Regions from separate parts of the Homo sapiens genome. Here region 1 is linked to region 2. The links come from fine-mapping of genetic effects on gene expression. A gene starts in region 2. The other region holds a variant in brackets. All regions are shown on one strand. Distances are between the middles of the regions.

Region 1 (5,373 bases), 49 kb after region 2:
CATACATGTCCTTTGAATATTATTAAAATCAGTATGATCTGGCCAAGCATGGTGGGTCATGTGTGTAATCCCAGCACTTTGGGAGGCCAAGGCGGGTGGATCACTTTGCTGCGGGATAATTAAGGAATTAGAGAGACTGAGGGGTTGAGGAGGAATTATTTAATTATTAAGCTGCACCAACCCAGTCGGATTAACATCCAAAGGACTGGGCCCTGAACAAAGAGTCAAGTTACCTTTTAAGCATTTCGTGGGGCAGGGGCAGATCTGTGCAGGGGGAAGCATATTACAGAAGCAAGAAACAAAGACAGTTATTTAATTGAGACATGCATTACATTATTTCATACTTTTTAAGGAACAACATGTTTTACAACTTGAGATTATCTGTCTAGTGACCTTGTAGCTGCACAGCTAGAGAAACAGGGTCTTCACAATGCTTGGGAAAGGGAGAGATAAGGCTCACTAGCCACAGAAAGACAGGCAGTTAATTTTAAAGGACTCCAGCTCTTTCTCTTCCTCAAGGGGAATTGGGTTTTCTTATATACAACTGAGTTTTTGTTTAAACATTTTTTGATTTATTTTAATTCCTGTTTCAGCTTGAGCTCAGTTCAAGACCAGCCTGGCAACATGGCAAAACCCCTGTCTCTACCAAAAAAAATTAGCCAGGCGTGGTGGCAGGTATCTGTACTCCCAGCTTCTTGGAAGGCTGAGGTGGGATTATCTCTTGAGCCCGAAAGGTAGAGGTTGCAGTGAGCTGTGATTGCACCACTGCACTCCAGCCTGGGTGATAGAGCCAGACCTTGTCTCAAAACAAAACAAAACAAAATCAGTATGATCTGAATTACATCATATTAATGGGACCTAACCGTAGAACCTACCCTCTCTTTGATAAATTGATTTTCAAGATGAATATTTTGAAATTTCCAGATTAGCTGGGCATGGTACCACACACCTGTAGTCCCAAGTACTCAGGAGGCAGAGGTGGAAGGATTGCTTGAGCCCAGGAGGTCAAGGCTGCAGTGAGCTATGATTTCGCCACTGCACTCCAGCCTGGGTGACAGAGAGAGACACAACTCTAAATAAATAAATAAAAATTGGGCACAGTGGCTCACACCTGTAATCCAGCACTTTGTGAGGCCAAGGCAGGAGGACAGCTTGAGCCCAGGAGTTTAAGACCAGCCTGGGCAACATAGCAAGACCCCATCTCCACACACACTCAATTTTTTAAATTAGCTTGGTGTGGTGGTGCATGCCTATAGTCCCAGCTACTTGGGAGGCTGAGGTGGAGGGACCACTTAAGCCTGGGAAGTTGAGGCTACAGTGAGGTATGATTGTGCCACTGCACTCAAGCCTGGGCAACAGAGGGAGATCCTGTCTCAAAAAAAATAAAAAATAAAAAATAAATAAATAAATAAATAAATAAAATTTCCAGAGGAGGTAGGTCCCCCTTTGCCTCTAATTTTTTCTCTATAAATATTTTTGCTTCATCCATTCTTTGTGTGAGTTTATCAGTTTCACAGGTGTGTTTTAGCTCTATTTCTTTGCAGGAATTATCAACTTTTCTTTTTTTTTTTTTTTTTTTTGAGACTGAGTCTCACTCTGCCACCCAGGCTGGAGTGCAGTGGTGCGATCTCAGCTCATTGCAACCTCTGCCTCCCGGGTTCAAGCGATTCTTCTGCTTCAGCCTCCCGAGTAGCTGGGACTACAGGCATGCGCCACCACACCCAACTAATTTTTGTAATTTTAGTAGAGATGGAGTTTCACCATATTGGCCAGGCTGGTCTTGAACTCCTGACCTAGTGATCCACCCACCTTGGCCTCCCAAAGTGCTGGGATTACAGACCTGAGCCACTGTGCCCAGTCTCAACCTTTCTTCTACCAGTTAGCCAGTGATACATTCTCCTTCATTCCCATCAGTATATAAAAATGATATTTCTCCAATCAGAAAACAAAAATCCTCTCTTTCACCCACCTGCTGCCAACCATGTCCTCCTTTGCTTTACAACAGGGCTTCTCCACATTGACACTTTGACATTTTGGACTGGCTACTTAAATATATGAATTAAAAAAATTTTTTTTTTCTTTTTGACAGAATCTCCCTCTGTCACCCTGGCTGGAGTGCCATGGTGTAATCTAGATT[T/C]ACCGAAACCTCCACCTCCGGGTTCAAGTGATTCTCCTGCCTCAGCTTCCCAAGTAGCTGGGATTATAGGTGTGAGCCACCATGCCTGGCATGAATGTAAATTTCTCCTCCACTTTGCCGTGGGGGGCTGTCCTATACATTAAAGAATGTTTAGCAGCATCCCTAGTATCTATCTACCCGATGCCAGAAGCAACACCCACCCCACCTCAGATGTCTCCAGACATTGCCCAATGTCCCCTAGGAATACAGTCACCACCCTGCCTCCACCCCAGTTGAGAACCACTTCTCTGCAGCAAAACTCCTCAAAATAATTGGCCGGGCACAGTGGCTCATGCCTGTAATCCCAGCACTTTGGGAGGCCGAGGCAGGCGGATCACCAGGTCAAGAGTTCGAGACCAGCCTGGCCAGCATGGTGAAACCCCGTCTCTACTAAAAATACAAAAATTAGCCAGCCGGGCAGGTGGCACATGCCTGTAATCCCAGCTACTTGGGAGGCTGAGGCAGGAGAATCACTTGAACCCAGGAGGTGGAGGTTGCAGTGAGCCAAGGTCGTGCCACTGCACTCCAGCCTGGGCGAAAGGGCGAGATCTCGTCTCAAAAAAAAAAAAAAGAATTATTGGCTGGGCAAGGTGGCTCATGCCTGTAATCCCAGCACTGTGGGAGGCCAAGGCAGGCAGATTACCTGAGGTCAAGTGTTCAATACTAGCCTGGCCAACATGGTAAAACCCCTTCTCTACTAAAATACACAAAAATTAGCAGGAGCATGGTGGAGCATGCCTGTAATCCAGCTACTGGGGAGGCTGAGGCAGGAGAATCACTTGAACTTGGGAGGCAGAGGTTGCAGTGAGCCGAGATCATGCCGTTGAACTCTAGCATGGGCAACAGAGCAAGACTCCATCTCAAAATAAAAGAATTATCTATATGCATTGTCTCACATTTGTCTCCTTCTCTTTACCAAAGCGCCACTGAAAATGTTCTTGTTGACATCATCAGTGACTTTCATGTTGCTAAATGCTATGGCTATTTCTCCATAAGATGCAAAAAATTAGCCAGGCATGGTGGTGGGCGCCTGTAGTCCCAGCTACTCAGGAGGCTGAGGCAGGAGAATGGCATGAACCCGGGAGGCGGAGCTTGCAGTGAGATGAGATCACACCACTGCACTCCAGCCTGGGCAACAGAGCGAGACTCCGTCTCAAAAAAAAAAAAAAAAGAAAAGAAAAGAAAAAAGTATAATAGCAAACATTTATATAGTGCTTCTGGAACAGGAATTAAAAGAAATTAAAGAATGTGTAAGCAAAAACTCAGTTGTATGTAAGAAAACCCAATTCCCCCTGAGGAAGAGAAAAAGGTGGAGTCCTTTAAAAATTAACTGCCTGTTTTTCTGTCTGTGGCTAGTGAGCCTTATCTCTCCCTTTCCCAGGCATTGTGAAGACTCTGTTTCTCTAGCTGTGTGGCTGCAAGGTAAGTAGATAGATAAACTCAAGTCGTAAAACATGTTTTTCCTTGAAAAGTAAGAAATGATGTAATGCGGCCGGGCGCGGTGGCTCACGCCTGTAATCCCAGCACTTTGGGAGGCCGAGGCGGGCGGATCACAAGGTCAGGAGATCGAGACCATCCCGGCTAAAACGGTGAAACCCCGTCTCTACTAAAAATACAAAAAATTAGCCGGGCGTAGTGGCGGGCGCCTGTAGTCCCAGCTACTTGGGAGGCTGAGGCAGGAGAATGGCGTGAACCCGGAGGCGGAGCTTGCAGTGAGCCGAGATCCCGCCACTGCACTCCAGCCTGGGCGACAGAGCGAGACTCCGTCTCAAAAAAAAAAAAAAAAGAAATGATGTAATGCATGTCTCAACTGAATAACTGTCTTTGTTTCTCACTTCTGTAATATGCTTCCCCCTGCACAGATCTCCCCCTGCCCCATGAAATGCTTAAAAGGTAACTTGACTCTTTGTTAGGGGCTCAGTCCTTTGGATGTTAATCCGACTGGGTTGGTGCACCTAAATAATTAAATAGTAAGTATCCTCCTCAACCCGTCGGTCTGATTCCTAAATTAGCCCGCTACACTGCAAGGGACCCAGAGATCACCTCCAGCCCCTCTTTTAACTCTTAGTGGGTTTTTGAGCTGGATCGAAAACGAACTGACACCAGGCAGATTAACAAGAGAAAAGTGTACAAACTTTGTTTCACGTGTACGGGGGGGTCTACACAAAAAAAAGAGTGAAGTCTGAAGAAGTGGCCAAATAAGATGCTTTATATGTTTTAGACAAAGAGCAATATACTTGAGAAGAAATGACAGGACAAAGAAAATCTGGCTGGGGCAGTAAATTTTTCAGGGGAGTCACTAGGAGATAAATGGGGGGAGTGCCAAACTGGTGAAAGTAAAGGTAACTTTGTTAAGTATGTTTATGGAGGTCCATTGTAGCCTTTAGTTTTAAGTCTCTGGAGATAAGGGCTATTTTCTTGCTCTTATATGGAGAGGGTACCTTTTCCAGATAAATCCTCATCACTTGTTACATGCAGGAAAACAGTGGTCAGCTCATTGTTTCTGAAACTTTACTTCCTCTATTTTTTTTTTCTTTGGTGACAGAATCTCACTCTGTTACCCAGACTGGAGTGCAGTGACACAATCTCAGCTCACTGCAACCTCCACCTCCCAGGTTCAAGTGATTCTCATGCCTCGGTCTCCTGAGTAGCATGCGTCACCACGCCCAGCTAATTTTTGTATTTTTAGTAGAGAGAGGGTTTTACCATGTTGGCCAGGCTGGTCTTGAACTCCTGGGCTCAAGTGATCAGCCTGCTTCGGCTTCCCAAAGTGCTTGAATTACAGGCGTGAGCCACCGTGCCCAGCCTCTCTAATGCTTTTTAACTCAATAATTGATATATCGATTTGGCATATTTGGAGTTTTGGGATTTTTGTTTTATTTATTTATTTATTTTTGAGACGGGGTCTCTCTTTGTCACCCAGGCTGGAGTGCAGTGGTGGGATCATAGCTCACTGCAGCCTCCACTTCCTGGGCTCAAGTGATTCCCCTGCCTCAGTCTCCCTGGTAGCTGGGACTATAGATGAGCACCACCATGTCCGGCTAATTTTTGTGTTTTTTTGTACAGACATGGTCTTGCTATATTGCCTAGGCAGGTCTTGAACTCCTGAGCTCAAGTGATCTGCCTGCCTCGGCCTCCCAAAGTACTGGGATTACAACCACCATGCCCAGCCCAATTTGGCATATTTTGGGATGGCA
Region 2 (5,373 bases):
TGACTTTAAAGAAAAAAAGTGCTGGGCACGGTAGCTCCCGCCTGTAATCCAGCACTCTGGGAGGCCGAGGCGGGTGGATCACGAGGTCAGGAAATCGAGACCATCCTGGCTAACATGGTGAAACCCCGTTCTCTACTAAAAATGCAAAAACTTAGCCAGGCGTAGTGGCACGTGCCTGTAGTCCCAGCTACTCAGGAGGCAGGAGAATCGCTTGAACCTGGGAGGCGGAGGTTGCAGTGAGCCAAGATCACACCACTGCACTCCAGCCTGGGTGACAGAGCGAGACTCCATCTCAAAAAAAAAGAAGAAAAAAAGTAAGGAGTTCCGGAGTTCCCATTAGTTAATAATGGGATTTTTGGCAGATCACTTCCCCTTTCAGATTAGTAAATATGACCGGAATTGATGATTTTTAAGACCCCTGCCAGTGCCAACATTGTATCATGTAGCATAATAAACCTGATTCTAGTTTGAAAATTTTATTTTGTATTTCTGGGAATATAAGCTTTTCATAAATTAGTCTTGGTTTGTGTTTTTTAATGGGGTTCCTTAAACCAAACTGAAGGGCATACTGTCTTTTTTTTTAATTGTAGTTTTAAGAGTTTGGATAAACTAAAGGAAGCATGGAGATGAACGACAGGCGGAGATAAAAGGAAAGGACAAACAACCTCTTTGTGCCTGTTTTGTCATCCATAAAGTGGGGATCATAATAGAACCTTCCAGGATTACAGGCTCATGCCCATCTCTACTAAAAATACAAAAATTAGCCAGGTACGTGGTGGCGCACACCTGTAGTCCCAGCTACTTGGGAGGCTGAGGCAGGAGAATTGCTTGAACACAGGAGGCGGAGGTTGCAGTTAGCTGAGATCGTGACACTGCACTCCAGCCTGGGTGACAGAGGGAGACTCTGTCTCAATAAAAAAAAAAAAAAAAATTCACGTATCTCCTGATACACCAGGATCCTGCAGTCGGCCAAGGACTGTGAAGAACAGAAAAGAAACCCAAGACTCCATCCCATCTTTAAGAAGTCTTCAGTAGCACCAGAGACAAAAAGGACGGCCATGCGGGCGGATCACGAGGTCAGGAGATCGAGACCATCCTGGCTAACACGGTGAAGCCCCGTCTCTACTAAAAATACAAAAAAGTAGCCGGGCGTGGTGGCAGGCGCTTGTAATCCCAGCTACTCCAGAGGCTGAGGGAGGAGAATGGCGTGAACCCGGGAGGCGGAGCTTGCAGTGAGCTGAGATGGCACCACTGCACTCCAGCCTGGGCAACAGAACGAGACTCTGTCTCAAAAAAAAAAAAACAAAAAGGATGGCCATGGGTGCAACAGGGGCCCTGACTGCGGGTTGTACTGAACGGCAAACATATCGCAGTTCTTGCTTTTAGGGAATAAAGTAGGGAGAGGAAGAGGAGGTAGAGTCTCCAGCAGTGACTTCAACAGCTCGCTGTCTTCACTATCTAGGAAATAGGTGTAAAAACCTGCTCAAAACGAAATAGATTTGTGAAAAAAGGAACTTCAGTGTGAAGAAAATGTCAAGATCAAGGCACCTCGGATATTCAGTCATTGGTCTCATTGGCGATTAGAAATCCTCGTTTGAGGTCGGGCGCAATGGTTCACCCCGTAATCCCAGCAATTTGGGAGGCCGAGGCGGGCGGCTCACTTGAGGTCAGGGGTTCGACACAAGCCTAGCCAACATGGTGAAACCACCTCTCTACTAAAAATACAAAAATTAGCCGGGCGTGGTGGCAGGCGCCTGTAATCCCAGCTACTCGGGAGGCTGAGGCAGGAGAATCACTTGAACCTGGGAGGCTGAGGTTGCAGTGAGCTGAGATCGCACCACCGCATTCCAGCCTAGGCAACAGAGCGAGACTGTCTCGCTCTCAAAAAACAAGAAAGAAAAGAAAAAAAAAGAAAAAGAAATCCCCGTTTGACAGGAAGGTGGCTCATGTCACTAGAGGGAAGGAACTGGTTTATGGGCCTGGATGCCCCCAGTTGAACCGGGGGACATCTTCCTCCTCTGTCCCTCCCGCCTCGCCTTTCGGTGGACACACAGTCCTGTGCCAGACAGCAAACGTCCCAGCAGGGCTCGCAGCGCCCCCTCGGGGCAGAGAGATGCACGCGGGCGACTGTCGCAGTCACCTCGTGGCCACTGCACCAAACGCTCCTCCGAAGCTTCCCTCAGAGACCCTCCCTCAACCGCGAGGCAGTCCTCCCCTCTGCCCTCTGTCCACAACAAAACTGCTCCCCGCCTCTCACTTGAGGGCACCGGGGCCAGCCCCCGAGACGAGAGGTCGGCCGCAGCCCTCCTCCACGGGGCTCACGACCCGGGGGCCTCACGACCCGGGGGCCCCATGCTGCCACCCTTACCCCGGGGCCCCCAACCTCACCCGCCGCCGCCACCCTCGGTCCCGGCCACAGCGGGCGGCTCTGCAGAAGAGCTACGCTCCGTCCAGTCGGACCCCGGACCCTGGCCGGGCATCTCCGCGGCGCCGAGACCGCGAGCCGTGTGCGGGAGCAGCTGTCCCAGCATCCCTCCCCCGACAGCACGCGTGCGTCAGGCTGCTGGTATTCCGGAGAGGCGGCTCGGATGCTGGCTTCTCGCCCCTCCGAAGCCGTTCGGACACTGCCCGAACAGCTTCGGGAGAGCGGGGCGGGCAGATCCGCGACCCCGGAGTTACGGTGGGGGAGGGGCAGGAGCGCTGCGGTCGCTGAGCGTTTGCACGTTTGCACCTCTCTGTGGAAGCAGTGCGTCACAGGAGGGAAATATACATGCTCCCCAAAACAAGAGGTGCCTTCCACTTCAGTATTCCAGATCCTCAGCACATTTGCAAATCGCGAGGGTCACCATACAGGTCAAACGTCTGCACGCAAACCACGGACCGAAGCACGTGGCGCAAGGATGCGGAGCTTTATCTGTTGTCCGTTATTACTCAGGTATCCAAGCTTAGACAGCATCCCAACGGCCGATTTCCATCAACTACTTTTGCGCACGCGCAAATCCTCTCCCTCGCCCCTCCCCTTTTTTCTCAGGACGCGTTTCTCACGGGATTTGGCCCGCGGGCTGCCCCGTAGTAGGAGGTGTGGTAGAACTGGAGGCGTAGAAAGAATGTGGATTGCGATTGGTTCGCACTTCACTTTCCCGGAGCTCAGTGGGCGTCGCGCGAAGGCTAAGGGAGTGTGGCGGGCGGCTCCGGGAGCCAACATGCCTCGGTATGCGCAGCTGGTCATGGGCCCCGCGGGCAGCGGGAAGGTGAGGATCTGCGGGGACAAGGAGAGAAAAGTAGGAGTTCGTGGAAGGCGGGAGATTGGGTCCTGAGGGAGTGAGCCGGCGGGTGTGTGTACTGGGAACCCTGAGACCCCACGCAACTCATTTCTGCTGTCTGGCTTCACGTTCTTTTTTGTTGTTGTTTTGAAAGGGAAATAATGGTAGTTGTTAATATTTATTGTATACTTAAGCCCCAGGCAGCAGATGAAACGCCTCGCTTATTTCTACAACAACCCTGTGAGAGAGATCTCATTTTTCTCATTTTACAGAAAACGAGATACAGAAAGGTTAATTAAGTTCTTTGCCCCGCAAAAAAATATAAATCCAGTTTTGTCTCAACTCCAGAATCCGGCCCTGTCTCGCTCCCAGGAGGGTAAAGTGGGGTCTCATTAATTACTGTTTCTCAGAACTTGGGACATGGACTTTTGGTATTTAAGGTGCTTTTAGGTGGTAGGTGGTACATGGACCCCACATTAAGGAGCATCAGATAATGTGTTAGGGAAATTGTTCCCTTTTCATTTCTCTTTCAGTTCTCAACTTCGCATTTAGGAGAAGTTGTGCTCGGTGCTAGTGTGTATCTTCAGCACTTCTTTAATCCCCAGGTCTTTTCAGAGAGCAGTTCTTAGTCTCAGAGCTTTTAATAGGCACCTGTATTTAGCTAAAAATAGAACATTTAAAGATTTTATATAATTTTATGTCTAATTTCACGTTATGTCAAATATAAGTGGTTTTCAGTTTACAGTAGGGATAAAATTTTTTCTTGTAAACAAATATTAAGGGAATGTTAGGAACATTCAAATACAGTGAGAATGGTGAAGATATGGATCAAATAACATATGTGTGGGAAACATAGCCAGGCGTGGTGGCTCACGTCTGTAATCCTATCACTTTGGGAGATGGAGGTGGACGGATCGCCTGAGCCCAGGAGTTTGGGACCAGCCTTGGCAACACGGCGAAACTCTGTCTCTACAAAAAAATGCAAAAATTAGCCAGGCCTGGTGGCAGGTACCTCTAGTCCCAGCTTCTCGGGAAGCTGAAGTGGGAGGATTACCTGAACCCAGGAGGTTGAGGCTGTGGTGAGTGGTGATCGTGCCACTGCACTCCAGCCTGGGTGACAGAGGTACTGTCGCAAAAAAAAAAAAGAAGAAGTGTGGAAACACTAGAGTCTGTGGAGGTGTTGTGTGGCCTCAGTCTTTAACAAACACATTGTTCTAAGCTGTTGACTTATTCTGGGTAAAAACATGTACATGTAACTAAGATACCTATGGCCTTTAACTTACCCAGAGTCTGTAGTCTTTTGGGGAAGACAAATAGATGACCTGTCAATTAAGATACAGTGTGATGTGGCCAGGTGTGGTGGCTTAAGCCTGTAATCCTCGCACTTTGGGAGGCTGAGGCCAGCAGATCACTTGAGCCCAGGAGTTCAGGGTCAGCCTGGGCACCATGGTGAAGCCCTGTCTCTACCAAAAATACAAAAATTAGCTGGGCATGGTGGCGAGAGCCTATAGTCCCACCTACTCGGGGGGCTAAGGCTGGAGAATCGCTTGAGCCTGGGTCAAAGCTGCAGTGAGCTATGATGGTGCCACTGCACTCCAGCCTGGGTGACAGTGAGACCCTTTGCAAAAAAAAAAAAGATACAGTGTGTGATGTATGGAGAGGGCATTCCAGACAGAGACAACAGTATGTGTAAAGGCACTGAGAGGACAGCATGATGGATGTTTTTTCTATAGTCTATTTTAATTTTTGGGCTGATTGTATTAAACAAGTATCTTTATAAGCTTTTGATGCTTACTATCAGAAACATTCCTTGAGTACGTTCTTTATCCCAGGCACTGTTTTGGGCCCTGGGGGTTGTATGGGGAAAAAAACATGCACACACAAAATCCGTGCCCTTGTGGAGCTTATCTTTAAACATAATAAGTCAATTAGAAACAATTATCAAGTATTTATTATGTACTAGGTATTGCGCTAGTCCCTGTGCTTGGGAAACTGAATAAGACACATCTCTGCCTTTAAACAGAGTATGACACAGACAAGTAGCCTAGAGACTTTTTTTTTTTTTTGAGCCAGGAGTCTTGTTCTGTCATCCAGGCTAGAGTGCAGTGGT

What was found. PIP is the estimated chance that this variant, and not a neighbour inherited with it, causes the effect.
Region 1: its variant is the best candidate, but not a certain one, in a credible set for the expression of GPN3 in monocytes after LPS (Fairfax 2014, PIP 0.78).

What each region holds. Positions count from the first base shown.
Region 1 is chr12:110,416,654-110,422,026 of GRCh38, reverse strand. No RefSeq gene overlaps it. Among named protein-coding and RNA genes, the nearest start is that of ANAPC7, 16 kb to the right of the region's middle. The variant T/C (reference allele first, on the strand shown) is at 2,138.
Region 2 is chr12:110,466,034-110,471,406 of GRCh38, reverse strand. It overlaps GPN3 (GPN-loop GTPase 3), which reads left to right and starts at 3,150. Exons shown (of 8, transcript NM_016301.4): 1 at 3,150-3,251. The coding sequence starts at 3,204. FAM216A (family with sequence similarity 216 member A) reads right to left here and starts at 2,562. Exons shown (of 7, transcript NM_013300.3): 1 at 2,389-2,562. The coding sequence starts at 2,531. LOC124903016 (a long non-coding RNA gene) reads left to right here. Exons shown (of 3, transcript XR_007063459.1): 2 at 591-768; 3 at 956-1,118. RefSeq lists enhancers at 1,819-1,988, 2,909-3,038 and a silencer at 2,189-2,498.